2 separate regions of the Homo sapiens genome follow, and region 1 is linked to region 2. The links come from fine-mapping of genetic effects on gene expression. A gene starts in region 2. The other region holds a variant in brackets. All regions are shown on one strand. Distances are between the middles of the regions. Region 1 overlaps TOMM70 (translocase of outer mitochondrial membrane 70). Region 2 holds the start of LNP1 (leukemia NUP98 fusion partner 1).

What was found. PIP is the estimated chance that this variant, and not a neighbour inherited with it, causes the effect.
Region 1: its variant is fine-mapped to the expression of LNP1 in unexposed skin (GTEx, PIP above 0.99). The same link has a PIP of 0.9 or more in adrenal gland and whole blood.

The regions. Positions count from the first base shown.
Region 1 is chr3:100,360,651-100,376,920 of GRCh38, forward strand. It overlaps TOMM70 (translocase of outer mitochondrial membrane 70), which reads right to left. Exons shown (of 12, transcript NM_014820.5): 7 at 14,368-14,502; 8 at 12,888-12,995; 9 at 11,956-12,072; 10 at 8,388-8,485; 11 at 7,394-7,516; 12 at 2,781-5,067. The coding sequence ends at 4,914. NIT2 (nitrilase family member 2) reads left to right here. Exons shown (of 10, transcript NM_020202.5): 10 at 1-985. Among named protein-coding and RNA genes, the nearest start is that of TOMM70, 32 kb to the right of the region's middle. The variant G/A (reference allele first, on the strand shown) is at 6,983.
Region 2 is chr3:100,393,633-100,409,902 of GRCh38, forward strand. LNP1 (leukemia NUP98 fusion partner 1) reads left to right here and starts at 7,907. Exons shown (of 4, transcript NM_001085451.2): 1 at 7,907-8,807. It overlaps TOMM70 (translocase of outer mitochondrial membrane 70), which reads right to left and starts at 7,457. Exons shown (of 12, transcript NM_014820.5): 1 at 6,994-7,457. The coding sequence starts at 7,317. RefSeq lists enhancers at 5,875-6,794, 7,476-7,585, 7,636-7,685, 7,696-7,785, 14,333-14,858 and 1 more and silencers at 7,156-7,235, 7,846-7,925.

The sequences.
Region 1 (16,270 bases), 33 kb before region 2:
TGTTGTCTAAGGCAGACACTGTAAAGCTCTACACTGCTGAAAAACTAAGCTTGAGATGCATAAAAGAACACATAGAGATGGGGAGTCAGTTCTCCATACATTTTGTGAGTAGAGGCATTGGTGTTTTGTTCCAAACTATCCAATCGAGAATGTTCATATAATGACAGCTTTGGAAGGTAGAGACTATCTTCCTCTGGATCATAGGACAGGTTTGTTTACTATCTGATACAGTCAAAATAGTGTTTCCCTCTAATGCGAAAGTCAGGCCAGTTTGCTTGTGACCTCATTAGATTTGGGCTGTGACGCAAACCCACTGCATGTGCAGTATCCACCTAGCTTGCCCTGTGTCACTCCCATGGGATCTGTGGCTCAAACTCATGTTGCTTGCTATGTTCTAAATAATTAAGTCTGTTGTCTGACCCAGGAGTCTCATGTCTTCTGCCAGCATTCAGAAAACTAGTTTTCAAGAAGGGTAACATCTTAGACCTTTTACAGCTCTTGACACAGAGCAATATTGAGAAATAAAATCAGGTAAAAGTTATTTAATATAGCAGTTCATAATTTAGGCCATGGATCATCTCTGCAGAGAATCCTACCATGCTGCATTCTTGCTTTAAACCTTTCGCCCTCTAAAACAATGCCCAAGAGCCAATGTTAGTCATGGTCTTCCTGTATTTGCTCTAGGTAAGCTGTTTCATAGCCTTCCAGGACAACACTTGCACAGGTTATCTTTAAGCACCAACAAAAGAAATGGAGAAATTTGAGCCATGTATCCTGAGCTCTGAAAGGCAGCAATCATCTTGACCCCAAGCATACACCATGTTCAGCTTCCTCCCCTTGGCCAGGTACCACAGCTACTTCTATCCCAGTGATCAGCAGGCCCTCCAGCATGAAGACCTTTGAGAAGGATCTATAGCTGTCAACTCCTAATATGATTTGTGCACTATCACCTTGAAGTAAACCAGACTAGTTATTTTCATGCTAAGAGTCTGAAAACAGTGCCTTCTTTCTGATGTCTCTTGTAGAATATTGGCAGAGGGATCTCAATTTTTACTTTATACCTGAAGGGCAGCTTTTTGGTCTGATAGTTATAGTGCAATCATTCATATTTTAAATCACAAATACCCCCACTTGTTGATGAAAACTCCAGTCTGTGGCATGGGTGTACATTCACTGCCTAAACCATCTTTGGCCAAAATTTGTGTGTATATGAAGTCATTCTACTTTAGCATACTCAAAGGCATTCCTTTAAACCATTTATCTGCTTGTACACAATAGCCAAAGGAATATTTGTTACTATGGCTGATGTAATAAACTATCATCACAAATTTAGTGGCTGAAAAAAAACAAAGTTATTCTCTTTTACTTCTGGAGTCCAAATTCATGGGGCCAAAATGAAGGTGTTGGCACTCTGCTCTAGGGCAGGATCCGTTTCTTGCCTTTTCCAGTTTCTGGTAGTTGCCAACATTCTTTGGCTTGTGGCCACATCACCTCCAGTCTCTGCCTCTGTGGCAACACTGCCATCTCCTCTTCTGTCTAAAACCTTCCTCTTACATAGACATTTGTGACTGCATTTTAAGGTCACCAGATCATCTAGGATAATCTCCCCTTCTCAAGACCCTTCACTACATCTGCAAAGCCCATTTTTTGCCAACTAAAGTAACATTCACAGGTTGCAGGGATAAGGATGTGGCTGTCTTTTGGGGAATCATTACTCATCCTATCAGTGTGGTAAAGCTTGCAAGTAAATTAAAATTTTGTCACTTTGTTCACAAATCAATTTAGCAGAGGATGGGAATAGGACTAATTATAACCCGTATCCCCACAACAACTCCTAAGTTATTTCCTTATAAATACAAATTCCATACAGGACAGTCTTGGGTAATTGTTATTCTATACTCCTAAGTTTCCTGGTTTGGCTATATTGTCCTCCTGTTATAGTCTTATAACAATTAGTTGACTTCTACAGGTACAAACTACTATTTAAACTACAATTTGAGTTCCCAGAGGGCAGAAAGTTCTGTCTGAACTGTTTTACAGCCAAAGTTGCTTTTTATTGTTTTGGGATGTATTCTCTACTTATACCACAATTTTCGAGGATGATTATTTCAGGTATGCTTTCTGAGAGACTCCACGTGGTTGAGAACTATGATCAATCTCACTGGTGAAACCAGATTCAAAATAAACTTATCCACAGGGTCCATGTCTGATTGGCAAGCTTCCAGGCTGCTGTGCATGTATGGGTAAGGTAGAGGCAAAGAATGAAATAAGTTGGCTCTACCAGCTCTCCGTGGAGCCTTGTTTCACAGTAGGAGGGGTGGATGCTCTCAAGAAACTCCACCATTCATACCAACAAACTTACTTTGCTTCATATGCTAACATTTCCTGTATGTTCCTATTTTCAAAGTTATTTTGAGTTCACAAGAGATTCACTGTGAATTTACGCAATAGCATAATAAATGAATAAACTACCTTTTTTTTTTTTTTGAGACGGAGTCTTGCTCTGTTGCCCAGGCTGGAGTGCAGTGGCGTGATCTCAGCAGGTTCACTGCAACCTCCGCCTCCCGGGTTCAAATGATTCTTCTGCCTCAGCCTCCCAAGTAGCTGGGACCACAGGCGCCCACCACCACACCCGGCTACTTTTTTGTATTTTTAGTAGAGACGGATTTCACCGTGTTAGCCAGGATGGTCTCGATCTCCTGACCTCGTGATCTGCCCGCCTCGGCCTGCTAAAGTGCTGGGATTACAGGTGTGAGCCACCATGCCCAGCCTAAACTACCTATCTTTCTATTTAAAGAATAGATAGAAGAGCTTGAATGTAATATTTATTTGGTGAATTTACATGTGAGGTCATTTACAAAAGAAAGATACAGACAGATGCAGCTTTCAGTGCAGTTTCAAACATTTTCACAACAGGCAATAGTCCATGAGAATTTGGAATGACAGTATAGAATGGCACATGCTTCAGTTTCCTTTGTGTTTCTCTACCCAACCCCAAGATGAAAGAAGGGAGAAGAGTAGAAGAAAATGTCAGTGTTAATGTAAATACAGCCATGCAAATAAAAACTTTTTTAAAGTCAGAGGTCATTCAGAGATGTAGAACATTTCTGTATTTGGGGGTTATCAGAAGGTGCATAATTTAAAAACAAAATGCAGCGGTCTCAAACTTCCCATCATCCAAATCATCTTGAATTATATTAACTGCACCAACTAATTAGTGACCTCCTCAATATTTTCCAAAGATTGACTTTGAAAGGGAGTCATTTCTAATAGTTTCTAAAAAAGATAGCATTTGTAGACAAATCTTTTTGGTTTCAACAGAATTAAGCACCCTTAAGGGGTGTAAAAATGCTCCTTTACTCCCAACAGTGTAAACCATAATTATAATTCGTTCTTAAATAAACCTCTCCCCATCCTGAGTATTTCAAAACAAAAGACCCCTGAAGAACACAACCCTTCCCTCACCAGAAAAATCTAGCATATAAGCAAAAGGATGGTCTATAAAAGTGGAAAATGGAAATAAATCGTAAAGTGATTTCTAAGTAAGGAGGTGGAGTAAAGCTTAAACACTGTCAGTACCCCTAGTGAAGACCTGGACCTGGGTAGTTAGTCCTTAGAGATCAAGGTTAGCTCACTACAAAAAGCACTCTACATGTCCTCAGCATCTTCAAAAATAAGTGGCTCAAAATTCCTTAAGCACATGTAGCCATAGTTAAAGCACTAAACTTGTTATTTCAGGAAATACTATGCTCTGGCTCCAAGTCTTACATCCTTTTTGACCCTTTAGCCACATGTCCTTCACGAGAAATTTTAAGCTATTTTAATACTCCCATATATCACACTTACTCTACCTTTATTTGGGTTTTACATACAAGCAATCTGCACTTTGATTTTAAAAAAGTTCTAAAATTTTTTAAAGGATGGGGTCTTGCTATATTGCCCAGGCTGGAGTGCAGTGGCTATTCGCAGGTGCAATCATCATGGCACATTACAGCCTCGAGCTCCTGGTCTCAAGCCTCTTGCCTCAGCCTCCCTAGTAGCTGAGACTATAAATAGTATATACAGTGCCACTGTACCCTCTATCCTACATTTTTAAAAGCTCACCATTAAATAGTACTAATTATTATAGAAAATAGTCACAGACAATTATAAACACACTACTGTTTCATCTTACCTCTTTGTCTGGTCCACTCCCCCATCAATACTCAGTCTTCCAACACATATATCAATTAGAATATTTTGCATCTGCATAATTTACTGCAAGAAAATCTGCTGTTGTGGACTTTAAGAAGAATGTACACTATCCATTAGAGTGGAAAGGGGCCAAGAGGATTAATAAGTGCCACCAAGTTTCTAAAACTGCAGAATCAGAGGCATTGTGCATGCTGACAATGGTTTAAAGGGTCTCTCAATTTTACTTTAATCCCCCATTTAACCTTTGTTTCTTTCAAAAAATCAACTGAAAGCGGTTAACTGAATATAAATCTATTTTACAGCATTTACTACGTTAATTTAAAAATCAACATGCTGTAAAATACTTACATTATTCACACATATATAGACGGAATCATCCAGAACATAATCAACTGCCAACCCCCCTTAAAAAAAAAATCAACAAATCAGTTTTTATTTGCATGGCCAATTATCATTTGTACTCTTTGCAACTTTATTTAAAAATCCCTTTAACATGTTCTAATCTTTTGTTGCACAGGGAATAAAAGCTGCAAGACTGCAAACTTCCTTCAACAGCCACACCCACAACACCTAGACATGAAACAGATGTAACAAATAACAACACCACAAACAGAAATACTGATTTCCACCATTCAACACAGTTCATGACAGTGTCTTTAGGGTTCAGTTGAAGAGGGGGTAAACTTTTAAAAAGAGGGTCAGTCTGCTTTCCCCCTGTTTTATAATGTTGGTGGTTTTAATCCGTATTTCTTTGCAACTTCTGTCTGGGCATGGGCGGCATCGCAAAGTGAATACAGATGGGCCATCTCCATTTCCGATTTGGCCAGGTTAATAGCTTTGTTGAACATGTCAATGGCTTTCTCCATGTTTCCTCTAAAAGAACAAAATTTTTAAGTCTCAGATTCAACAAGCACTTCACAATATTCAATGAAGGTTGTAAGTGATGGTACATGAAGTCTGACCACTAAGTTTCTTCACAATATTCAATGAAGGTTGTAAGTGATGCTACATGAAGTCTGACCACTAAGTTTCTACTATGATTCTAGTAAAATGCTTCTTTTAAAATAAACAAGAGTACCTACCACATTGAAAGCACTCAATGAATGTCAACTACTATTACAAATACTATGTGCTTACATTATATCCCTTGTATTCTGTGTTTACTGATAAGAACAGTCAGACTAGGGAAATTGATTGGCTTATTTAAAATCACAATTCCGTCTGGTTCCTAAATTTTACATGTTTCTACTGTTAACATGAGACTCCTTTAGAAAGCAGTGACATAATACCGGGACACTAATGACATGCAAGGGCCTTACCTTCACAGACTGATGTGGGCCCACCTCTTTCTGTTTCATCTCTTACCAGCACATCCCCAACCCCATGCATCTCTACTCTTCAGGCAGTCTATGTGAGTTCCTCACACCTACTCAATAAATACTCAGATTTATTGCCTCTGCCTGATTCTGGTCAAATCCACAGCTATCTAAGAACCAACTGTTTTAAGTAACTAGTATTAGCTACATATATATGCAATCCTACAAAGAATATTAAGTCCCTACTATATATATATATACCTGCATATACAGAGTCTAACTGGCATACATGTTAGTAAGGTACATTTTATTGGCATATGTGCCAGTTAGACTTTATATGCCAGTAAGAGGTACCACTAGGGTGACTATATTTAATCCCCCATTATAATATATGGCAACGTGATAGGCTTATTTTTAAAAAAAACTTTTTTCAAGAGTTCATGTTCTGGCATTAGGCCAACAGCTAGCAGATCTGCAAAATCCTAGGATAATCTGCAATTTCATTTATTCAAATTCACTTATTTAATTGTAAGGTTCAGAATGGATTTTTTCAAAGTTCAATTAACGTGAACAAAATTCCATCAAACCCTATCAGAGGTCTTTAGTTAACCCAGGATCTATGAAAGCCTTGAATTAAAAGCAAAGTGTTTTTGTGTGCATTATTCTAAGAAGAATCCACAGCTTCGCTCAAAAAAGATTAAGAACTACCACCCTATCCTATTCTAGTACAAGAATATTTTATTCACATTAACAAATTAGCAATTAAGAAATAATTTAGGCTGGGTGCAGTGGCTCACACCTGTAATCCCAGCACTTCAGGAGGCTGAGATGGGCAAATCACTTGAGGCCGAGAGTTTGAGACCATCCTGGCCAACATGGCAAAAGCCCATCTCTGCTACAAATACAAAAAGTTAGCTGGGCATGGTGGTGCATGCCTGTAGTCCCAGCTACTTGGGTGGCTGAGGTACAAGAATCACTTGAACCTGGGAGGCAGAGGTTGCAGAGTCAAGATTGTGCCACTGTACTCCAGCCTGGGCTGGAGACTCTGTCTCATAAAAAGAAGAAAAAAAAACTTAATATTTACATGCCACTGTGGGTACAGAATGGTTAAAAGAAACACAATTTTTTTTTTACCAGCCTATATATATTCTGCCTACTGTAGAGCAGGGAGAGGACTACAGGAGGGGCTGAATGATAGGGAATTAAGAAAACTCATGCTGCTTCCTGACAAGTGATAATGCCAAGATCAGTGACTGTGGTATCAGTGATATATGAGCTCAAACCCTGTCTTCTCTATTGGCTTACTGTGCAACCTTGTAAACCTAAGCCCTCTGGGCATCAGTTAAATTAGGGATCATATAATCTCCACCTTTATAAAGATGGGGATGAAGATTAATTGAAATAGTACTTAGGAAACATCTAAAGTTTAATACTTGGCCTAAAGTAGGAAACTCAAATGAATGGCAATACCA[G/A]TATTAAGATGGTATACAATAAATCCCATATATAAAACAGCTGTCACCTTTTAATGGTGGATCTTAAGAGCAACTCTGGATAAACACTTACACAAAATAAGAGGTTAAGGACAGAGCTGCAAAAAATGTTCTTATCCAACTCTGATTTTAAAGAAAATTCAGGGGCTCTGAGTTGATGTTGCAACTTGCCCAGCCATTTGGCTGGATGCTTCTTTGGAGGAGGGTCCAGATTTTCTGGCAACTTGGCTACCAATCCTTATGTCACTGCCTTAGCACATTTTTTTTTCCAACGTGAATAATACAGGTGAAAAGAGGAAAGAACATAACAGACTTTAACATGTACGTAATAAGAACAAAAAGCTAAATATCTATGGAGCTACCATATATTTCCTAACAGACTCCAGAAGTTACCTTTGTACTTCAATAGTTCCCATGGTTTCATAGGCAAAATCACATTTATTGTCAATTTCAATAGCCTTGCTGATAAGTTCCAAACCTCTATCCAGATCTTGCTTCCACTGAAGTTGAAGTAAACTGCAAATGCAAAAAAATGTCAGATGTGACCATGGCCCAGTATCAGTAGGAATACACACACATTAATATGACTCAATTTCTGCCTTCAATGAACTTATAAGTTAACTTATAACTTATAAGGCAATATATAATCAGCATCAAATTGTGTTTTTTTTCTCAGCTTATATTGGTTTGCTAGTCTAAGTTCCTTATTACAAAAAGTGTTCAATGGTCTAGGCTCTATTACCAATCTTGCATCCCTTATTTTTCACTTTATATAAATTTAAGTGAAGTTTCTTAGGATAATTCAAGTACGCAAGGACACGAACACTTGTGTATGCTTCGTATTTGGATATAAGCCAACAGCTGACAGGATGTTCAGTTTGAAATTAAAACCCTTAACACAGAGCAAGAATAGTACATTAATTTCTTTCTTTTTGTTTTTTTTGGGACAGAGCCTCACTCTGCCGCCCAGGCTGGAGAGCAGTGGTGCAATCTTGGCTCACTGCAACCTCTGCCTCCCAGGTTCAAGTGATTCTCACTCCTTAGCCTGCTGAGTAGCTGGGAATCGGGCATGTGCCACCACACCTGGCTAATTTTTTGTAGTTTTAGTAGACACCGGGTTTCACCATGTTGGTCAGGAGGGTTTCGAACTCCCAACCTCAGATGATCTGCCTGCCTCGGCCTCCCAAAGTACTAGGATTACGTGTAAGCCACTGCGCCTGGCCTCCTTAACTAATTTCTGTAAGAATGAAAAGACATCTAGGAGCATTAAGAAGTTTGTCAATTAACTTCTCTACCACAGTCCCCTTCCTCAGTGGCCAAAATAAATACATTTTATTACTATGCAAGAAATTTATTATCTCATTGGAACAATCACAAAAATACATACCCTTTATGAACATATGTTGTAGCATTATCTGGTTCCAAATCAATACATTTATCATACATTTCATCAGCTTTACCAAACTGTTGTTGATCTGTTAATGCCTATGTGAGGAGATACTTCAGTTATATTAAGGTAACCGTCAACCTAAGCAGTTAAAAGTATACTTATTATTCATTATAAAAATTTACTTCATTCATTATTACAAAATTATCACGTTTTGGGGATACAGACTGATTTACATTTTACATCTTAATTATCGGAGTTTTTAGGTGGCACTGCTATAAATATGAAATCTTAACTATCCTCTTTCTTCAGCAAGTGGTTAGTTATATGCCACAGCAGATAATCTCTGGTAAACTGTTCAATACAGATAATCCCATTCTTAGTCACAGCTCTAATATCACATTCTCATAGGTACAGTCACATCACTTATTCATAATTTATCATAATACAGCCCAAGGGAATTTTTTTTTTTTTTTTTTTGAGATAGAGTTTCATTCTTGTCACCCAGGCTGGGGTGTAGTGGCGCAATCTCTGTTTTCTGCAACCTCCGCCTCTTGGGTTCAAGTGATCCCCCTGCCTCAGCCTCCTGAGTAGCTGGGACTACAGGCGCCCAACACCTTGCCTGGCTAATTTTTGTATTTTTAGTAGAGATGGGGTTTCACCATGTTGGCCAGGTTGGTCTCGAACTCCTGACCTCAGGTGATCCACCCACCTCGGCCTCCCAAAGTTCTAGGATTACAGGAGTGAGCCACCGCACCTGGCCAGGGAATTATCTTAAGGGCAATATTCATTTGGAAGTATAAGTTAAGATGTATGTGTTAAATGTCTTCAGAGCTATTTGTTTAAAATTATTGATTTTTTAAAAAGCAGCTATAACTGCTTCAACTAATATATCTCCAAAAATAATTCCCTAATATTATCTATAATACCTAGCCCATATTCAGTTAACCCCGGTTATTTATAAGATGACTTTTAAGAAGTATGTGAGTCATTATATTTAGCTGTATGGCTCTTAGTCTTTTCATATCTAAAATAAGCCAACTTAAATATTTTAAAAATCGCTCTTAAAAATATCAAAGAAATGTAGCCAGCACATCTTCTTTATAATAAAAATCAGAAAGATATAGAAAGTAGAAATATTTTTATAGCTTCCATCATTGTGAGCATGGATGCCTTCCTGATATATTTTTCTATCTCTATTTACTTCCCTATTTGTTTTCTTTCACATGGTTGAGTTCATTTTGTATGCAATTCTCCCTTTAATAATAGGCAGTGCTGTATCTTGCTTTGTAACTTTAATGTATTTGTAACTTTTAATGGCTGCATAATATACCATTAAGTGAGTGTACCACAATTCTGCAAACATAATTCAATTTTCTGTTAACATTTAGGATTTTCCCCAATTGTTTGTCATAGTTAACAATAATGTAATAAATACTTATTTTGAAAACAAAAGCAGCAGCTATAATCAACTTTTTAAGACAAATCCCACGGCTGAAATGGAAGGCACAGTTCTGTGGATATCAGACTATGCTCAAGCTGTAACTTTGCGAGTTGGCCAGCATCTACGCCAAAGCTTTGAGGGCCAAAAAAGTTACACTAAGTATATATATATACACATACACATACACACACACGTACTGTATGCATATATAAAGTTACATATACTATATAGTGAAGCTAAAATTAGAAAACAGACCAAAGAAAAGAAATTTGAGTGCAAACTGACTGTAATAATGCTAATGCTGATGAGAAGACAGCTCATACAAACCAAACCTATCTTGAAGGCAGAATGGTAATAGGGAAATATGCTATTGGGAAAGTTCTGCAGAGGAGTTGTTCCCCAGTAGTGGTTCCTATTCGGTGGCCTTTGCTCTTCTAGATGCTTAGAGAAATCTGCACCAAAAAAGCCCTTCTGAATTCCATGACAATGATGAGGATGTTGCTGTCATTTCCTGGTTTGTTACTAATTATAAGGCATAAACTCAAGTGTACCCATTCATAGGATTAAAATGTACACTTTAATGTAGTTATATATAAGACCTACCTCTAAAGAACAGATCCAACACAAATCAATTTTCTCATAGTTCCACCCTCAATAAACCCTTAAAATCCTTGTGAAATTGTTCTTATAACCTGCCTACAGATACCATGAAGGAAATTAAAAACAAAATAAGCATCCTTAAGAATGGTTTAAGGAGAGGGGTCAACCAGCGATGGTATTTTTTTTTTTTTTTTTTTTTTTTGGAAATGGAGTCTCACTCTTGCCCAGGCTGGAGTGTGGTAGTGTGATCTCAGCTCACTGCAACCTCCGCCTCCTGGGTTCAAGCGATTCTCCTACCTCAGCCTCCCGAGTTGCTGGGATAACAGGTGTGCGCCAAACCACACCCAGCTAATTTTTGTATTTTTAGTAGAGATGGGGTTTCTCCATGCTGGCCAGGCTAGTCTCAAAACTCCTGGCTCAAGTGATCCGCCTGCCTCAGCCTCCCAAAGTGCTGGGATTGCAGGCAGGAGCCACCACACCCAGCCAGGGGATAGTAATTTGTTATCGTTTCCTATTTCTGTGCTGTGGGGAAAAACCCAACATGTCTTTTGTAATTAAAAAGAGAAAAAAAAAGAAAAATAAATTACATAGAGCAGCAGTCCCCAACACCTTCCCAGCACTTTTGGCACCACGGATTGGTTTTGTGGAAGACAATTTTTGCATGGATGGGGGTAGGAGGAGGAGGGATGGTTTTGGGATGAAACTGTTCCACCTCAGATCATCAGGCATGAGAATCTAATGCTGCTGCAGATTTGACAGTGACAGGAGGTGGAGCTCAGGTGGTGATGCTTGCCCAAGGCTCACCTGCTGTGCAGCCCCATTCCTAAGAGGCCACAAAGCAGCTGTACCCCTGATATAGAGTATTGAGATGGCTAGTTTATGTAGACACCAAAACCAATTTTCAGCTTTAAGAAAGAAAACTGAGTCATTCAGAGATCTTTTATTTGAGGGGAAAATGTATGACCGTCACTACAAGAAGCTAATCATTTTCATTTAAATGGATGATTTAAAACTAAGAAGTTTTCAAGAATTTCAGACTACAATAAAAAAATTCAGATTTAAATCCTGCTTTCCATAGCTTCAATCCTAAACCAAGAGAGTTTCAGGAATTTTAGATAAAGCAAAGATAAATTAAAATAAACCGTTACAACAACCTAGCCATATAAAAAGGCAGTGACCAGATAGAAAGAAAAGCCTTTCCGTGGATATTTTCTCCACCAATTGCATACGGTAAATTTTCCTAAGGTAATTACTTTTTGCAAAACCAATCCAAATGAAGACAGGAGGGAAATTCTCGCCTTAAGCTTCCCCATATTGAGTTTAGGGCCATGATTTCCAAATTGTGTAACAAAGGAGCCTCTTCTGAGGTGATTCGGGACCAACCAGGGGCCATGAGAATCAATCAGGAACAAAGCCACCTGCTTCCAAAGAAGCTGCAACCATGATAGCACTGTTTTCTGATTTCCATACTGAGATTTGGCATATGTATGCAGTTATTTTTAAAAAACCTGAAAAAACATTTACCTGGGCGTATAGTGCATAGCCTTCGGCACACCTTGGAAATTTCTTTATGACCTCTTCAAAACCTTTCATAGCTGCTTGGATTTGTGAAGAGTTGTTTCCCGTATATGCCTGGCGGTACTATAAAAAATCAAAACAGGCCTGTCAAATCAAGAACTCAAAAACTCATGGAATGTTAACATAAACACACAAAATTACATAAATATTTCCAAAAAAACAGGTGATTTGCTAACATAATCTGCAGCATCCAAAAGGGTTCCAAGTAGGTATCTCAGCAGCAGAGAGCCAAAGGTTATGTACAACTAGGACTCCATGGCCACTATACAATTTCAAGATGTTCAATACTGTAGAAGAGGGCATACTAATTTGTAAGAAGTGAACTTTGCAATAAATGAATTTTAAATCTAGTAAAATTTTTGTCATTTTCATTTATAATATATATTTGTGACATAATTTCTTCCTTTAAACTGAAAATTCTTTTACGACTCCAGCCATACAGCTAACTGGAAGTATCTTATTTTACTAGAAAAATTTTTACTTAAAAAAAAAAAAAAAACAACCTTTTGAGCTTTGTGTTTCTGAATATTAAGAAACAGTTCTATGAAGCAGGGGTGAGAGAGCAAGTTACATGGTGTCATGTTTACAGAGTGTTTCCTCAAAATGTTTTTGCTCTTTATATTGATTTATGATGAAGCAGGGAGACCAGTTCTGTTTAGGGAAGTATAAAATCAGGGACAAACATCTATCAAGATGAACCCAAACAAATGTCCAGAGAAATACAAGAGCTAGGTATCAATCAGCACCTTTTTTCCTCAGTAGTTATCCTTTGGGAAAGAAAGAAAAAGACGACTTTGTAGACAATGAGATACTCATTTTTGTTGACGCTGGAAAATAAAAGTGATGTTTAGGAAAATACAAAAGAAAGTAGTACCTACCAATGCAAAACATTTCTGTGCTTGTGCCAGAGCAGACTCAGGTCTTAACCTAATACATTCATCAAAATCTGCCACTGCTTCTTCAACTTGATCAAGGAGTATTTTCAGCTAAGAAAAAAATACGTAAATAAATGTAATTCAACTAGTCCAGTTAAGTATGTTCAGTGTCTCATCTCTATTATTACACCTCAGCATAATGCTGAGCATGTAGTAGTAATTCAATATATAATTACTTTCTAGAAACAGTGATTTAAAAATCTTGAAATTTAAAAGGCAAGATTCCAAAACATAAAAATGGTATCCAACTTATAGAAAGGACTACAAGCCAACCATTTCTGCCCTGCAATTCTGATCACTATTAAGCAAGAAACCCCTTCTTCTAGAAAACTAAACATCCTGTACATTCTAATATCAAAGCAGGTTAGACATCAGATAATTACCTTTCAAATTAATCTTCAGACACTACCAGTAAAGATCAAAATGTCAAGAATTTTAAGAGGTTATCTCAACACTTAACACCCTTCTGAAAGAAATACAGTCATGCATATTTACATTTCAATCAACAGACCACATATACAACAGTGGTCCCAAAAGATTGTAATACTGCATTTTTACTGTACCTTTTCTATGTTTAGATATGTTTTAGACACACAGATACTTACCATTGTGTTATAACTGCCTATAATATTTGGTATAGTAACATGCTATACACGTTTGTAGCTTAGGAGCAACAGGCTACAACATACAGCTTAGGTGTGTAGTAGGCTATACCATCTAGGTCTGTAGAAGTACACTCTATGATGTCCACACAACAAAATCGCCTAATAATGCACTTCCCTGGCAGGACACATGACCCTATTAGGTAAAATTCTCCATTAGAAAGAACTTCGGCTCTTCTGTTATTATTAATGCATAGCTCACACTTTATACCATAATGCATTCCAAGAAGCCATGTTAAGCTGATTATAAAGCCATGTTTTCCCCACTTGAGGCAGTAATTGGAAACTGTTTCTTCACTATATATTTCTACTAAAAAACTAATATGCCTGTTATAAAACTTCAAAAGATAAATATATTTATTTTTACTATTTGGACAGTCCAGACTATTTCCTTATAGCAAGAAGCTCACAAAAATCATCCTGTTGATTCTAGAATTAACTCACATTGCTTACTAAATGTTATTAATGTTTTACTCATTGAAACCTATGAACCAGAAACACCAGAAAAACAAACTTGAACTGGTAAGCCAACAGTTTTTGCCTTCCTTTACTCTTTTTTCATAAGTAAATACCAAAATTAAAGACAAATATTCAAGACAGACTAAACAAAGGCCAATTCAAACTGTAAACCACTGTGATACTTTGTTCACAGCTATCAGAAATTATATAAGAAAACTCAAGAAAATTACATAAGAAATTCTCAAAAATGGTATCAAAGCTCAATCCACAAGTCAGACCTCTAGGTAAGAAAACAGACTTACCTGTCCTCGGTGGTGATAAACATCTGCATTCTGAGGATCGATGTCAGCAGCCATGTTAAAATCTTGAGTGGACAGCAAAGGCTGCTGCTGTTGCATGTACATGCTGCCTCTTTTGATGAGAGCATTTGCTCGAAGCTATATACCCCAAGTGAGGAAAGGTTCATCATTACTTTTTTTTCCCTCCAATCTAGTTTCTTTAAATAACAGCTTTTTTCTATAATCCACATATCACAAAGGTCACCCTTTTAAAGTATGCATGTCACCTGTTTTTAGTGTATTCACTAAGTTGTGTGTTGATTACCACTATCTAATTCCAGAACATTTTCATCACCCTTAAAAGAAACCACATACAAATAAGCAGTCACTCTCCATCCCCCTCACCTCCTACTCTTCAGCCCCTAGAAAACACCAACCTATTTTCTATTTCTATGGATTTGTATATTCTGGATGTTTCATGTAAGTGGAATCATACATTATATATAGCCTTTTGTGTCTGGCTTCTTTGATTTAGCATAATGTTTTCAAGGTTCATCCATATTGTAGCATGTATCAGTTTTTCATTCTTTTGTTATGCCTGAAAAATATTCCATTGTACAGATATCACATTTTATTTATCCATTCATCAACTGATGGACATTTGAGCTGCTTCCACTTTTTGGCTACCATAAATAATGCTGCTATGAACATTCACATACAAGGTTTTTAAAAAAGCTTTTTAAAAATAGAGATGAGATTTTGCTACGTTACCCAGGGTAGTCTAGAACTCCTGGGTTTCCAAAGTGCTGGGATTACAGGTGTGAGCCTCCACACCCAGCTCTCATGTACAAGTTTTTGTGTTAACGAACGTATTAAATTCTCTTGGGTATATACCTAGGAGTGGAATTACTAGATCATATGGTAAGTTTCTGAGGAATTGCCAAACTAATTTCCAAAAGGGCTTCACCATTGTATTAATATATTTCCACCAGCAATGTATGAGGGTTCCAATTTTCCACATCTTCAAAAACACTTATTATTGTCCAATGTTTTTTATTAGAGCCTTATTGTCTTTTTGATTATAGCCATCCTAGTAGGTGTGAAGTGGCATCTCATGGTGGTTTTGGTTTGCATTTCCCTAATGGCTAATGATGCCAACAATCTTGTCATTTATTATTGGTCATTTGTATATTCTTTGGAGAAATGTGTATTCAGATCCTTTGCCCATTTTTAACTTAGGTTGTCTTTTTATTGTTGAGCTCTAAGAGTTCTTTATTCTGGATACAAGCTCCTAATCAGATATATGATTTGTGAATATTTTTCCCATGTTGTGTGATGTGTTTTCTCCTTCTTGATGGTGTCTTTTCACACAGAAGTTTTTTTTTTTTTTTGAGACAGGATCTCTGTCACCCAGGCTGGAGTACAGTGGCACAAGTCACGGCTCACCGCAGACTTGACCTCCCAGGTACAGGTGATCCTCCCATCTCAGCCTCCTGAGTAGCTATGACTACATGCACATGCCATCATGCCCGGCTAATTTTCAGGCATGAGCCACCACCCCAGCCAAGCACAGAAGTCTGATCACGTCCAATCTATTTTTTTTTTTTGGTTGCTTGTGCTTTTGGTGCCATATCTAAGAAACTGCTGCTTATCTAAGGTAACAAACATTTAGTCCTCTATTTTATCCTAACAGTTTTATAGTTTTAGCTCTTACATTTAGGGCTCTAATCCATTTTGAGTTAATTTTTGTGCATGGCATATGGTAGGCATCATTACTACTTGCCACTAAAAGTCATGTGATCATGAAAACAATGCGTTTCTTTAAAATTTTGTTCAAAGCAATACTACATACATATAGAACAAATAATAACATCCTCCACAATTATAACAAAAACATATAACATATATCAGTTGTAATCATCAGGAA
Region 2 (16,270 bases):
GTGTACTGAGACTTGTCAAACGAGGCAGAACCTAGGAACATACCCCTCAGCTCTTAATGACATGAAATCTACTCTAGAAAACAGGTTACATTTTGAAATGAAAGCTACAATATTAAGGTACAATCCAGGTAAATCTAGTGGAATACAAAGTAAGAAAATCAGGTTTTGCTTAGGATAGTCAGTGAAGGCTACTCATGAGAATCCGCTCTGAAATAAAAATGACTAACAAAAGACAGGAAAGTACTCCAGGAAGGAAAAATAACCCTAAAAGGATTAGCCCACATATAGAACCTCAGGAGATCAGAAATGCACCAGCCTCTAAAAACAAGTCCTGCAACACGATTACATGACTACATTGCAAAAAGCTGTCAATGATATACATCTGGCAATAAGAAAACTATTATAAATTCTCAGCATTTATAAAATATTAACCTGATGATCACGTATAGTCACTGTAAAAGAAAATGAGCTAGAATTAGGTACATTAATCTGCGTGTGAGAAAATAAAATGGGTATTAATTTGTCACCATGATGACACACTTATACCCAGTTAAAATATACCTGAGATGGTTTGATGTTTCTCTTAAAATGGTTTTATTGTTTTAAATTTCTCAAACTCAAAAAGCATATATTATACTTGAATCACAGCTTTATAGAAGTAGCAAATAACTCTGGAACACTTACTGTATGAGAAACAATGTTTCAATACTTATTGACCAACTGTTACTTTTTCTTTTTTTTTTTTTGAGATAGAGTTTTGCTCTGTCGCCCAGGGGGGCACGATGTCCACTCACTGCAACCTAAATAACTCTGGAACACTTACTGTATGAGAAACAATGTTTCAATACTTATTGACCAATTGTTACTTACTTACTTTCTTTCTTTTTTTGAGACAGAGTTTTGCTCTGTCACCCAGGCTGGAGTGCAATGGCAGGATCTCAGCTCATTGCAACCTCCACCTCCCGGGTTCAAGTGATCCTCTCCCCTCAGTCTCCTGAGTAGCTGGGATTACAGAAACCCACCATCATGCCCGGCTAATTTTTGTATTTTTGTAGAGATGGGGTTTCACCATGTTGGCCAGGCCAGTCTTGAACTCCTGCCCTCAGGTGATCCACCTGCCTCAGCTTCCCAAAGCGCTGGGATTACAGGTGTGAGCCACTGTACCTGGCCAACCAATTGTTACTTTCATATGAATCAAACCTAGGATAATAATACCTAAGATAATAAGGATTCAAACCTAATAAGGAATAAAACCTAAGATAATAAAAAAGTCCTTTCCCATTTCACGTCTGGAAATTTTAAAAATGACAACCAACCCCACCTACTAAATCATAATAACTCTTTACCTAGGAAGAATATACTTTTATAATGACTGCTTCTGCAGGATTATGATTGTAGGTCATGCATAATCAACTGATTTACAAAAAGTATGCCCAAATGAGGTTTAAGATTTACGGCCAGGCGCGGTGGCTCACGCCTGTAATCCTAGCACTTTGGGAGGCCGAGGCAGGCAGAGCATGAGGTCAGGAGATTGAGACCATCCTGGCTAACATGGTGAAACTCTGTCTCTACTAAAAATACAAAAAATTAGCAGGGTGTGGTGGCACTCGCCTGTAATCCCAGCTACTCGGGAGGCTGAGGCAGGAGAATCGGTTGAACCCGGGAGGCAGAGGTTGCAGTAAGCCGAGATTGCGCCACTACACTCCAGCCTGGGCAACAGAGTGAGACTCCATCTCAAAAAACAAACAAAAAAACCCAAAACAAACAAACAAAAAATTCACCAGGCATGGTGGCGAGCTACTCAGGAGGCTGAGGGAGGAGAATCACTTGAACCCAGGAGGCGGATGTTGCGGTGAGCAGAGATTGCACCACTGCACTCCAGCCTGGGTGACAGAGCGCGACTCCAACTCAAAAAAAAAAAAAAAAAGAGAAAGGAAAAAAGATTTCCACGGAATCCAGCATTAACTGGTAGAACAAAAATGAAGAGCTGGAAAATTTGAAAAATATACCACTTGTGAAATTTATATATACATACACACACACATATATAAAATATAAACTTAGGGATGTCAAAGGAACCCTTAATTATTAGTCAAAAAATGAAACTTCATTCATTCAACACTTGCTATGCACCTGTATTAGGTTCTGGCAATACAATGGTGAACAAGATAGAGCCAGTCTCAGCCTTCACAGATTCAAGAGCATAGCAGGAAACAGCAATAAGCAATTCTAGTACCACGTGGTAAGTGCTATAAAATGGAAAAGTCCAGGGTGTTATAAAATCACATAGTGGTGTGCTTAGGTAGAGAGAAGTTTCAGAAAAGATGAAATGACCTCTGTATTGTGATAAGGAGACTAAGAATCCATGAGGCTGGTATCAGGTTTTTTTTTTTTTTTTTTTAAATCAGGAAAATGGAGTACCTCAGAAGCAGCAGGAAAAGTTATGACATTTAGAGCACAATATGAAATACTGCCAAGGATTAAGATTGAAAAGTGTTAACTAAGCTTAGAGGGAATGTCATTGGTGTCCCTGATTGATTTTTTAAAAATGACTCAAAACAGATCATTTGGGGGAGAGAATGACTTCATTTCAAACAAGATGACCAATAACAACAGTTTATGCAGTCCTCGACCCTTTACTAAAATGTGTAGGTACATCTTCCCTTTCCTACTGTAGTAGGCTGGCTTAGATTATTGGTTCCTAACCATTTCATGTGGGCTAAACTCATTTCATGGGCTAAACATATTTAATGCTAAATATGAACACAAGAATGATGCATTTTTTATCATCAGATTAAATAACAATTGGACAAAAAAGTTACAATGAAGTCAATAATGCTTTTAAATAAGTGCATTTTTCTAGAAAATCACAGGATGTTTGAAAAAGAAGTATCTGGGACATTGGTACAGCCAGGATACCATGCTTGGAATATATGTGTGGTGGTCCCTCGTGATGACTCAAGCCCACAGATTGAGAAGCACTATGGATAATATGATCTTCTAAAAAGCCTTGCAATTTAAAATTTTTTTTTAATTCTTCAAGTTTAAAAAAATTACTGAAGCAAAATGGCACATCATGGTAGATTTTATAATAGTTCAAAATGGAATATGATCTAATACTTTAAGCACCTCAGTCTTAGACACTATCAACTGTGACTAAATGCTTTTCTTCAGTGATACCCCAATATTCCCATTAATTAAAACAACTATGAATATCCTTTGCACTTCCTTTACAAGTTTTTGCTATCCCAGAAAAAAGGTAATTGTGCACACTAATTGTAAAGGAAAATCTCCAACCCAATAGACAGAAGTCCAGTAATTCTATCAGATCATTTTACATTAAGGTAAACATAAGCCAAAAGACAAAAATACAGATTTTCCATTCTATTTTCTGATATCAAACCCTAAACAGACAATATTTGTCTATTTATTCATTCCTTTAAAAACTGTAGCTATTGCTCAGGTGGAGAAAGGACAGTTAGGGCATCAGGATTCTGCCAGGTTTCCATCAGTGAAAGCAAATGCTTCTGGTTGCGAAATCCACCGAGGATGCCAATTTAGAGGTGCTATTCAAATGTACAGCAGTTTATCCAACCACAGATAAGAAATTACAATTACTGATCAATTAATTACATTTAGATAGTCTAATAATAACTCTAAGGACCAGACTATTAAAAGAAGACAAAAGTAGTCTTTCAATATTTACTGGTCACCAACAGTTAAGATATAAATTTCCAGTTTAAAAAAATCACAAAGACCTTCCTATTGTTGCTTTACCAAAGAACAATCTAGTAATTCAAAGATTACAGGTGTAGGCCTACATATTCCACAAGATGGACAATGGTAAGTGCAAATGTTTTGCCTTATTTTATTTGGGGCCAAAAATAAATCATTTTAAAGCAGTTTAAGTTACACAAAGAGTCCAATCTTAAATTCTAATTTTTAACAGCAGTCAGGTGAATAAAAAGTTATTTGTGGTCAGGGGCAGTGGCTCATGCCTGTAATCCCAGCACTTTGGGAGGCCAAGGCGGGTGAATCACGAGGTCAGGAGTTTGAGACCAGCCTGGCGAACATGGTGAAACCCTGTCTCTACTAAAAATACAAAAATTAGCCAGGCGTGGTGGTGCGTGCCTGTAATCCCAGCTACTTGGGAGGCTGAGGCAGGACAATCTCTTGAGCCCAGGAGGCAGAGGTTGCAGTGAGCCGAGACCTCGCCATTGCACTCCAGCCTGGGTGACAGAGTGAGACTCCGTATCAAAAAAAAAAAGTTATTTGTAAAACTAAAAAACTCTGAAATATCATGAAATTAAAAAATCATCAGTGTTGATCCAGACAACGTGGAAAAGAGGAATTAGGACATCTAAAATGTGAAAAGGAGATGGCTAGGTTTTATCAAATACCAATGGTACAGATCCCCTGGGATGAGGTGGGGTGGCTGAAACCACAATGAAATGTTAAAATCTAGTTTCAGCCGGTGAGGTGGCTCGTGCCTGTAATTCCTAGCACTTTGGGAGGCCGAGGTGGGTGGATCACCTGAGGTCAGGGGTTTGAGACCAGCCTGGCCAACCAGGCAAAACCTTGTCTCTACTAAAAATACAAAAATTAGCCAGGCATGGTGGCGCATGCCTGTAATCCCAGCTACTCAGGAGGCTGAGGCAGGAGAACTGCTTGAACTCAGGAGGCAGAGGTTGCAGTGAGCCAAGATCGTGCCACTGCACTCCAGCCTGGGTGACAGGGTTAGACGCTGTCTCAAAAAAAAAAAAAAAAAAAAATTTAGTTTCATGTATAGAAACTATCTTTATTTTTAATGTTTACAGAACTGAGAACTTTTTGGATCTTTTATTTTACCTACTATTCTTCCATGATTAAAACTAAATTAACAAACGAAATAGAAAATGACTGGAGAATTTCAGACATCCAAAATTGATGTAAGACAAGTGATAATTAATTCAAATAATCCTCTTGATAACTACTTTTAATAGCAGCAGTGAGCTATTATAAATGATCATAATGAGAATCATCAATTTTTAGTACTGAAAGAAACAGAAGAGATCTAATATTTTAATCCTCTTATTCTACAGGGATGACGCTAAGGTCAAGGAGACAAAATGACTTTCCCAAAGTGACAATGCTGGAGAGCCCACTATAAAGCTTACAAATCCTAGTTCTAACACAGTCCATAAGTTCTTCTACTATCCAGTCATAAACCTTTTAGAAAATAGGTAATGCTTCACTCTCCCATAGGAAAGATCATATGGCTTTCTCATGGCCTAGCACAATGCCTCACACACTGCAGATACTAGTTTGTTCATTCCTACACCAAAACTTCCTTTAAAGCTAATTTGACATCCTAGTAAAAATATCTTCGCCCGGGCGCGGTGGCTCACGCCTGTAATCCCAGCACTTTGGGAGGCCAAGATGGGCAGATCACCTGAGGTCAGGAGTTCAAGACCAGCCTGGCCAACACAGTGAAACCCCGTCTCTACTAAAAATACAAAAATTAGCGGGGCATGGTGGCGCGCGCCTGTAGTCCCAGCTATTCCGGAGGCTGAGGCAGAACTGCTTGAACCCAGGAGGCGGAGGTGGTGGTGAGCTGAGATCGCACCACTGCACTCCAGCCTGGGCAACAAAGTGAGACTCCATCTCAAAAAAAAAAAAAAAATTCAACCTGAATAGTATAATATGGAAATGACTTGCATACATATTTAAGTGTATACACTTGGATACAATTAGAAGTTACTTGACCAACTGTATATACTTATGTATAAAACTGGGAGATATTTGACCAAACGTTTCTCTGACCTCGACTTACTCTGGTACTACCATTGAACAACTCCAGACCCAGAGAAAATCCACCACACCCAATCCCAGTATTGTCAAATGCAGCCAGACTAATTCTCTGCACAGCTGTCAGATACCAAAAGGATTTAACAGTCAGTTCACCAAAACCATACAAAGCAGTTCACTAAATAATCCAATGCTTGGCCTCACATCAGAGAAACTGTATCATGCATATTAGGCTTGGTCATGTACATTTCCAGGTGAAATGGAAAAACTGAATTTAAGATGCTTCCAATCAAAAAGTTTAAGAAGTCACTCCCATTTTTTTTTTTTTTTTTTTTGTATGTGTGTGTAGGCCTGGACCTGGGGCAGGGGGCTGTGTGCAACCAAGCCTGGTGAGCATTGCTGTGGCCGCTACTCTTGTGCAGCAAGAGGGGACAGTGCAGTGCAGAGCGTTTTCTGACAAAGGCCAAGGGGTCCGGAGTGCAAAAGGACACCTTGGGGCTGGGGCATGGCAGGAGAGGTTACGGGCGCTGAGTGCTTGCAGCCAAGGGGGCTTCGGGGTTGCTGAGAGAGGACGAGCCTTGGGAGCTTGACAGTTCTGCTTACAGTTCAGAGGCTGTAAAACAAATGCCACTGAACACCATTTCACTCTTTAGAACCTGTGTAGTCTTTCTTTTTCTATGTAGAAAGCCATCTAATCGTTTTTGTTTTTGTTTTGCTTTTGTCAACTAACCGTCACTGTAGTTGCCCACTTACCCCCAGCAAAAACACACTCCAAAAGGGGGAGTGGCTCATTATTAAAAGGCTCTTAGCGATTAGGTTGTAGGCTTTGGAAATCACAGAAACAGTTCGTATCACGATGTACCAATTGTTAATCGAATTTAGCTTCCTTCACTTATTAAATACAATCATCACATTTGCAAATGCCCCACTCCCATCTACAACACTAGGGATAAATGCTGTGTCACTGAGAAGAAAAGCAAAGGATTTTTCTGAAACCAAAAGCAAACTGTCAAAGAATGCCAGTAACCTGTCATCGAGCTACTCTATGCCCTCCACTGGCAGCCAGAAATGAGTCTCCCTAAACCCAAGTGTTGTGCTGCCGCTTGGCAGCTTCCGTCTGATGGGAAGCCCCCTCACTGACACAACCCGCCAAGGAAAAGCTGCACGAGCCAGTTTCCTCCTCTACGGCCTGGGGCTGCTTCTCACCATGTCCAAGTGAGCACCGGGACCTTCAGGGTGTCCGCTGCCCGGGGCCGGACTGGCCCTGCCCTCCGGGGTCTTCCGTTCGCTGTTGCGCTTCAGGCCGCTGGCGTCGCCCCGGCCTCTGGCCTCCCGGCGCCGTTGCTGCCGACTCCACAGGTATATGGCACCCGCGCCCAGCAGCAGGGGTGCCCCGACCGCCAGAGCCAGCTGCCATCGCGGCAGCCCCCCCGTGCCCGGGCCCGCAGTCCCGCCGCCGCCCACCCCACTCCCGGAGCTCGGTACAGCGGCTGCGACCACCGCTGCCTCCACAGGTTTAGAGGCGGCCATGACAAGTGTCCTCTGCCACCGCCTCCCTGTCTGTCGCGAGCGCCACAATCACCAAACAGCGTGCGAAGGAAGACCGAGGGAGGGAAGGAAAGCAATGAGCGAGCGAGCACGCTAGGCAGAGAGAGCGGACGACAGAAAAGGGCCAGAGGTCACCGGAAGCCCAGGGCATGCCGGGCCAGACCTGGCCGTCCTTCTCCTCCAGTATCAACCGAAGAGGGAGAGGAGGGGCGGAAATCACTTCCGGGTTAAGGGAAAGCGTGGGTGTGAGTAGGAGTCTTCGGAAACCCTTTTTCTTTCTTTTCGCCCCGCTGCTGTTCGGGAGATGGACTTCTGGAGTCCCCGTCGTAGCTGGTGTTGTCCCCTCTACCTTCAGGAAAGAAGGGCAGATGGCCCTCTTGCCTACTGAAGCCGAGGAGGGGCGCGTATACAGCGGGCTAAGGGCGCTCAAGAGATCCGAGTGGAAGAAAAAGCAGCGGCACAGCACTGGAATGGGCGGGAGTGGCAGAAGAGTTGTGAAGGCTATTGGCTAGCAAGGGTGGTGGGCGGGGCGTAGACCGAGCTACCCAGTTTACTGGTCGATTTCGGATCCAGTTTTCCAGTTATAGCCACGTTGGCACCTCTTGAACCTCTGTGGCCGTTAGCACGGTTTTCTGCCCGCGTGCCCGAGAAACCAACGGATTAGAAGGACTTTTAAAGATGTGTGAGGAAAGAGCTCACCGCTGAAGAAGGCTGCTGCATCACTGAACTTCTTATCACTAACATAGCGAGATTTTAGTTTGGACGAATTTGAGGTTATAGGGGAGATAGCGATGGCAGAAGACTAGGTGGAAATGGCACATCTAGGTTGGCTGCAGTCGAAACGGTTTGAGCGTGGTCGCTGTGGCTCATCGTCGGCACCAATTAACGAAGCGATGACATCTGCGTTGTTAGGGGTTTCTTAAACTGAGTTGGTAGAAATGCGAAGCGTCAGGGTTCCCGCCGGCTTCGAGCCTTTCTTGGCGTATTTGTATCTTGAGCTGATTTCTGCGTCAGCCCACATCTCGCTCTGATCCGCACGCCCCCCGGGTTGTTTTGCAGTAGCAGTCTCAGCCCTCTTCTCGTCTCATTCCCAAATCGTAATTTCAGTTCACAGCTTTTTATCTATAATAGCTTTATCAACTCTTTTTCCGATGCTCTGCACCAGATCTCTTAAAATATAAAATTACCTTGCAAGGTATTGTTTGGAATACACGGTATTTTCATGAAGACAACTATTAATAGAAAAATCAGAGTCCAGAACTATGGTTCTCCATTTCTGGTATACTGGTTTGCAGAAGCCTTACATTAAGATTTCATAAATGATTGTTTTGCTGTTAAGTGCAACAACATCACAGTAGAGCTACATAAAGATTGAAAGGAGATATTTTATCAAGTGGCACCAGAATGGACTGATTAAAATAGAATGGCCTAATTGGAAAGAATTTCAGGATCACCGGTTTCTCCTGCTTCATGTAAGTTCCTATTAGTAAATTGCCTTCAGGCAATAGGGTTTCTTAGCAACAGACTAAAAAAATGGGCTAAAAATAGCAGTGGAATTGAGTTGATCGTTGCAGGCAATAGGCTTTTCTCCCCTCCTGATCCCCCAATCCCCAAAGGCAAATTTTCTGCCCCTTAATATAAGCTCTGCCTTGCCTTTTTCAGAACACAAGTTAGGATTTTTTTTTTTTTCTGAAATTTCAGTTTTGCTGTGGCCTCTTGGAGGATTGTAGAGTGCTAACAATTACAAACTTGATAGGAACTAAAACATATTTGAAGTTTTTTTTTTAAACCTTTTTCTTATTTATTGGAGTAAGCAATACACTGTTACGGTTAAACTCCAAAAGTTACAGAGTTTACTGTGAAAAGTCTTCCTTCAGTCCCTGTCCTCAGCTGCACAGTTCCCCTCTCCAAAGGGAATCGGTGTTATTTTCTTGAAACATTTTTTGGATTAATATTTATCTAAAGGCCTGATTTTGTTTGGCTTTATTTTTAAGGTTGGCATTAGTAAACGAATCTGTTCTGGTTACTTTTATACTTTGATAAACATCTCATTTCCATTCTCTAGCCTATGCTATTCTCTCATTTTCTCCTCCATTTCCTAATTGATGGTACTGTAGAGCCAAATAGAGTGTCGCTTACTGGCTTTGGGACCTTACTGATCTGATGCATGTTTTTCTAATCTGTGAAATGGTGAAAACATCTACCTCTCAGGCTATAGTAAAGATTTAATTAGAGAATATTTAAAGTTCTTTTGATGTTTGTTACAAAGCAATAGATATTTGATGATTAGTTCTCAGTTTTTCTAAATTTTAAAGTAAAGAAGTAAAATACTGCCTTTCATTTCTAAAAAATTAAAGTTCTGTATATGTGAACATAGACATTATCTTTTTCTTGGTAGATTAGTGGAACTCAACTGAAGAAGCTTTCTTCACCTTTGATCTGTATCTTAGGAGGCAGTTAAATGAGATAGTCTAATGGACTAGGTTGTGGAAGACCTGAGTTTTTTTTTTTTTTGAGATGGAGTTTCGCTCTTGTTGCCCAGGCTGGAGTGCAATGGCGCCATCTTGGCTCACTGCAGCCTCTGCCTGCAGGCTTCAAGCAATTCTCCTCCCTCAGCGTCCCAGTAGCTGGGATTATAGGCGGCTGCTACCATGCCAGGCTAATTTTTTGTATATTGGCCAAGCTGGTCTTGAACTCCTGACCTCAGGTGATCTACCTGCCTCGGCCTCCCAAAGTGCTGGGAATACAGGCATAAGCCACCATGCCCAGCTGACCTGAATTCTTATTCTAAATTTTAATACCACTGAGTTGTGTGTGTGACCATGGGCAACTCTGCTTTCTTTATAATGTGAGGAGGGGTGGATTAGATTATTTTTAAGGCTCCTTATTGTTTTAAAATGATGTAATTCTGTCCCTTCAATTGTCATTGCTACATGAAAGGCCTTTCAGATTGCTAGAGTTGGTAAATAGCTGGTTGACTGGTGTCCAAACCTTCCAGCCAGTGCACAAATCTGCTTATATTAAGCATGTACATATAGAACAGCTCTATTCTCTTTCAGCTGTCTGATGTTTTCATTCTGTTTTTCCTTACTGAAAAATTACTGAAAAGAATTGTCTACATCTGTTACTTATTTGGCACCCATTTCATCCAAAATCTGTTGTAATCTAGTTTACAACTTTATAATTAGGCTGAAAGTGCTTTAGAAGTCATAAAATTCATTGTGGTTTTTTTGTGGGTGGGGGAGGTTGGCTGTCACCCACTTTTACTTGATACCACTGATTATTCTCTCCTTGAAATGTTCTTTTCCTTGGCTTCAGGAGAATAGAGTCTTCTGGTTCTTCTACGCTCTGACCAAACTCTAGATCAGTGCTGTCCATCACAGCTTTCTATGATGCTGGAAATGATTTATATTTATGATGTCCAATATGGTAGCCACTAGCCACATGTGGCTATTGAGCACTTGAAATGTAGTGTGACAAAGACTACAGTTTTCATTATTTAATTGATTTAAGTAGTATCATGTGGCTAATGACTACCATATTGGACAGCACAGCTCTAGATATTCCTCAAGTGAGGAATTTATTAGAATATGTCTTCTTCTTTATCTTCAATCTCTCCATTAGTAACCAAAGTAAATCTCATTGCTTCAGGTACCATTTCTGTGCAGATAATCACTGTCTATATATCTTTTGGCATAGCTTCCCTTTTTACCTCTAGCCCTATATTTCTTACTACTTACTGAGCAGTTTTGCTTGGATTCCTGACTTTTGTCAAAAATATAACTCATCATTTTCCCCACTCATTCTTTCTCTTTGTGTTATCCTTTTTTTTTTTTTTTTTCCAAGATGGAATTTCGCTCTGTTGCCCAGGCTGGAGTGCAGTGGTGTGATCTCGGCTTACTGCAACCTCTGCCTCCTGGGTTCAAGCGATTCTCTTGTCTCAGCCTCCCGAGTAGCTGGGACTACTGGCGCCCGCCACCACACCTGGATAATTTTTTGTATTTTTAGTAGAGACGGGGTTTCACCGTGTTAGCCAGGATGGTCTCGATCTTCTGACCTCGTGATCCGCCCGCCTCGGCCTCTCAAAGTGCTGGGATTACAGGCATGAGCTACTGTACCCAGCCTGTGTTATCCATTTTTTCTAATAATACCACTATTACCTTAGCAGTTACTCATATTTGAAACCATAGACCTTTTTAGACCTCTCTCTTTTTCATCCTTACCTACCCAAGCACAAATGATTATGCTGTTGTATTTATATACACACATAAACACAAAATCAGCTGTGAAGTCTTCAACAAATTCAACTTTGTTGTAATATCTTTCTTATAGTTTTTTCACCCATTCTGACACTTCTTAGTTCATATAAGTGAAAACTCCTAAGAGTATGTATAACACATAACAGATACTCAATAAATAGTTTCTTCCCATCTTAGTACAGGCTGCTATAACAAAAATATCATAAAACTACTTAGCTAATAAACTATAGAAATTTATTTCTCACAATTCCTGAGGATGGGGGTTTGAGATCAGTGTGCCAGCATGGTCAAATTCTGTAAGAGCCCTATTCTGGGTTGAGGACTGCAAATTTGGTTTGTGTCCTCAAATAGTGGAAAGGGGCAAGAAAGTTCTCTGGAGTCTCATTTTTATAGGGGCACTCATCCTATTTTTAAGGGCTCCATCCTCATGATCTAATCACTTCCCAAAGGCCTCAACTCCTAATACTATTACATTCCCCTCTTTTTTCTCTTTTATTCATTTCCTTCATCTTGCCTAAATCCTATATTTGCTTGCTTCCCAGATAATTTCTCTGCCTCTAGTGCCTCTCTTCTATGTGTCACCCTGCACCTTGATATCAATTTACTCTTCCTATAGCATAACTGTAATTTCACTCTTGAGCTGAAAGACTTTTAAATCCTCTTCACTTTCACTATAAAGTTCAACATTTCTGCCCACCCATGCCTCCCTTCATACACCTCTTCTCTTTCTTTGGTCTACGATATTAGCACCTAGCACTATTAGAAATTACCTATGTGGGCCGGGTGCAGTGGCTTGTGCCTGTAATCCCAACACTTTGGGAGGCCGAAGCGGGTGGATCACCTGAGGTCAGGAGTTCAAGATCAGGCTGACCAACATGGTGAAACCCTGTCTCTACTAAAAATACAAAAATTAGCCGGGCATGGTGGCACATGCCTGTAATCCCAGCTACTCAGGAGGCTGAGGCAGGAGAATCGCTTGAACCCCAGAGGCGGAGGTTGCAGTGAGCCGAGATTACCCTATTATACTCCAGCCTGGGTGACAGAGTGAGATGCCGCCTCAAGAAAAAAAAAACCTCTCAGGTGTACACTTGTCTGTGGGAAAAATAAAAAAATAGTGTGATCCCCTCAATAGGATGTAAGCCCCACGAGGACAGAAACTGTTCATTTTGTACAGCCAGAGCCCAGAATATAGGTGGTGTGATGGGTAATTTCATGTGTCAATTTGACTGGGCCATGGGATACCCAGATACTTGTTTAAACATTATAAATGTGTCTGTGGTGGTGTTTTTGATTGCTTGATTTTTATTTTTTTATTTTTATTTTTTGAGATGGAGTCTTGCTCTTGTTGCCCAGGCTGGAGTGCAATGGCATGATCTCGGCTCACTGCAACCTCCGCCTCCCGGGTTCAAGCGATTCTCCTGCCTCAGCCTCCCAAGTAGCTGGAATTACAGGTGCCCGCCACCATGCCTGGCTAATTTTTGTATTTTTAGTAGAGACGGGGTTTTGCCATGTTGGCCAGGCTGGTCTTAAACTCCTGGCCTCATGATCCGCCTGCCTCAGCCTCCCAAAGTGCTGGGATTACAGGCATGAGCCACTTCGCCTGGCTGATTTTTATTTTTAGTGTATCTATTGTCGGTTTTTGCTTCAAAAAACATAGATATTACAGGTTATTTTAGACTGATAACAAGTTAACTTTGATTATTTACACATACACATGCAAACTACACTTTAACTCCACTTCCTTTCCTCAATATTTTGTGCTTTCAATTTCACAATTTAAGTATTTTTATATTGCATATCCATCAACAAGTTGCTGTAGTTATTAATTTTAATACTTTTATCTTTTAGCCCTACTAAAGATACGTGATTTACACACCCTCATTACAGTATTTAAATGCTACCATTACAGTATCAGAGTATTATAAATTAAATTTAGCTATGTACGTATTTTTGCCAGGGAGTTTTATACTTTCAGATGTTTCTGTGTTTATCATTAGTGTCCTTTCAGCTTGAAGAACACCCTTTAGCATTTCTTGTAAGACAGGTCTGGTGGTGATGAACTCCCTCAGATTTTGTGTGACTAGGAAAGTCTTTATCTCATGTTCATTTCTGAATGACAGTTTTGCTGAGTACAGTATTCTTGATTGACAGTCTTTTTTTTCCTTTAGCACTTTGACTATATCATACCACTCTTCCCTGGCCTGTAAGATTTCTGTTGAGAAATCTGCTGCTAGGCATATTGGAACTGCCGTATATGTTACTTGCTTTTTTTGTCTTGCTGCTTTTAGGATCCTGTCTTTGTCTTAGATCTGTAGAGTTTGATTATAATATGTCTTGTGATAGTCTTATTTGGATTGAATCTAATTGCAAATCTTTGACCTTCCTGTACCTGGCTATTTATATATTTCTCCAGGTTTGGGAAGTTTTCTGCTATTACTGCTTTAAATAAGCCTTTTACACCCTTATCTTTCTCTACTCCCTCTTGAATGCTGGTAATTTGCGTATTTGCTCTTTTGATACTATCCCATAAACCCTATAAAGTTTCTTTATTCCTTTCCACTCTTTTTCCTTTCTTCTCCTCTGTATATTTTCATATAACCTGTCTTCAAGTTTACAGATTCTTTTTCTGATTGATCAATCCTGCTCTTGATGCTCTCTATTACATTTTTACATTCATTGTATTTTTCAGCTCCAAAATTGGTCTGATTTTATTATTTCAATTTATCTGGTAAATTTCTCATCTGACCATTTATTATTTTCCTAATTTTGTTGACTTGTTTCTCTGTATTTTCTGAAGTTCTTTGAGCTTCTTTAAAACAGCTGTTTTGAATTCCTTGGCAGATAGTTGATATATCTGTGTCTTTAGGGTCTATGACTGGCATCTTATTTTGTCTGTTTAGTGATGTCATGATTCCCCGATTGTTCTTGTGGTCATGTGTCAGTGTGTGTGCATTCAAGAAGCAGTTACTTATTCCAGCCCTCACAATCTGGCTTTGTCTGGGAACATCCTCTAACAGTAAGCCTGTCCAGAGATTCTAGGCAGGTCATTTGGTGTGGTCTCCGAGCCTGTGACCACTGCAGCCCTTCCAGCTCTAGGGAGTGCTATGTACTCCCTACTGTGACCAGCACAGTGCCACGCTGAAATCCCGTAGTCACTGAAGCTGACTTAGCACTGGGATGGAATCCTGTGGCTGCTGAGGCTGGTGCAGCACTTGGGTGCACCCAAAGCCCACAGCTGCTGAGGCTACTGCAGCACTGGGGTACATCTGAAGCTTGCAGCCACTGAGGGGGCCTGCCTGTTGCTGTGGGTTATTTGGATCCCAAGACCACTGTAGTTGGCTGATGGTGATGTGGGCTGGAACTCAAGTTTGTCTCACAGGGGCTATGGTTTCCCATCTGCTGCCGGGATGGGTCTAGAGTCTCAGTCTGCAGTTACTGGCCTGAAGTCATGGGTCATGGGGGGGTCTACCCAGTGCTGAGTTTTACTGTGACAGGCCTGGTATTGGGGTCCAAGGCAAAGTCTTACCTTTACTTTCCTCTCTTCCTCCCAAGCAGACAATATCTTTTTCCGGGCTGTGCTGCCTGGTCTTGGGGGAAGGGTGACATGGGTAATGTAAAACTGTTCTTCCTACCTACTTAAATGTGTCTTTTCTTATTATTATGCTATAACCAGGTGCTATAATCTCTCACCTGGTTTCCTTAGCTCTCGTGAAGGTATTTTATACATAGATAGTTGTTCAAATTCATATTTCTCTGTGGGAAAATTGCTGGAGAGTCCTATTCCACCATCTTGCTCTACTTTCCTCTGTGAGAATGTTTTGGATGAGATTGATACTTGAATTGGCAGAGTGAGTAAAGCAGATTGCCCTCAGTGTGGTTGGCCCTCATTCAATCAGATGAGGGCCCAAATAGAACAAAACTTGACCCACTGATGAATAAGAGGGAACTCCTCCTCCCTAAGTTCCTTGAGCTGGGATATTCATCTTTTCTTGCCTTTGGACTTGAACTGAAATATCAGCTCTTCTTAGGTGTAGAGCCTAGTGACTTTCAGACTGAAAAGATACTATCAGCTCTCCTTGGTCTCCAGCTTGTTTACTATAGGTCTTAGCCTCCATAATTTTGTAAATAAATAAATAGGCTGGGCACGGTGGCTCATGCCTGTAATCCCAGCACTTTGGGAGGCTGAGGCGGGTTGATCATGAGGTCAGGAGTTCGAGGCCAGCCTGGCCAAGACAGTGAAACCCTGTCTTTACTAAAAATACAAAAATTAGCTGGGTGTGGTGGTGGGCGCCTGCAATTCCAGCTCTCTCTCTCTCTATATATATATACATACACACACACACACACACACACACACACACACACATATATATATATATATTTTTTTTTTTTTTGAGTCTCACTCTTATAGCCCAGGCCAGAGTGCAGTGGCGTGATCTCGGCTCACTGCAACTTCCGCCTCCTGGGTTCAAGCGATTCTGCCTTAGCCTCCCGAGTATCTGGGATTGCAGGTACCCACCACTGTGCCCAGCTAATTTTTGTATTTTTAGTAGAGACGGGGTTTCACCATATTGGCCGGGCTGGTGTTGAACTCCTGACCTCAGGCGATCTACCCACCGCAGCCTCCCAAAGTGCTAGGATTACAGGCGTGAGCCACCACACCCAGCCTAAATATA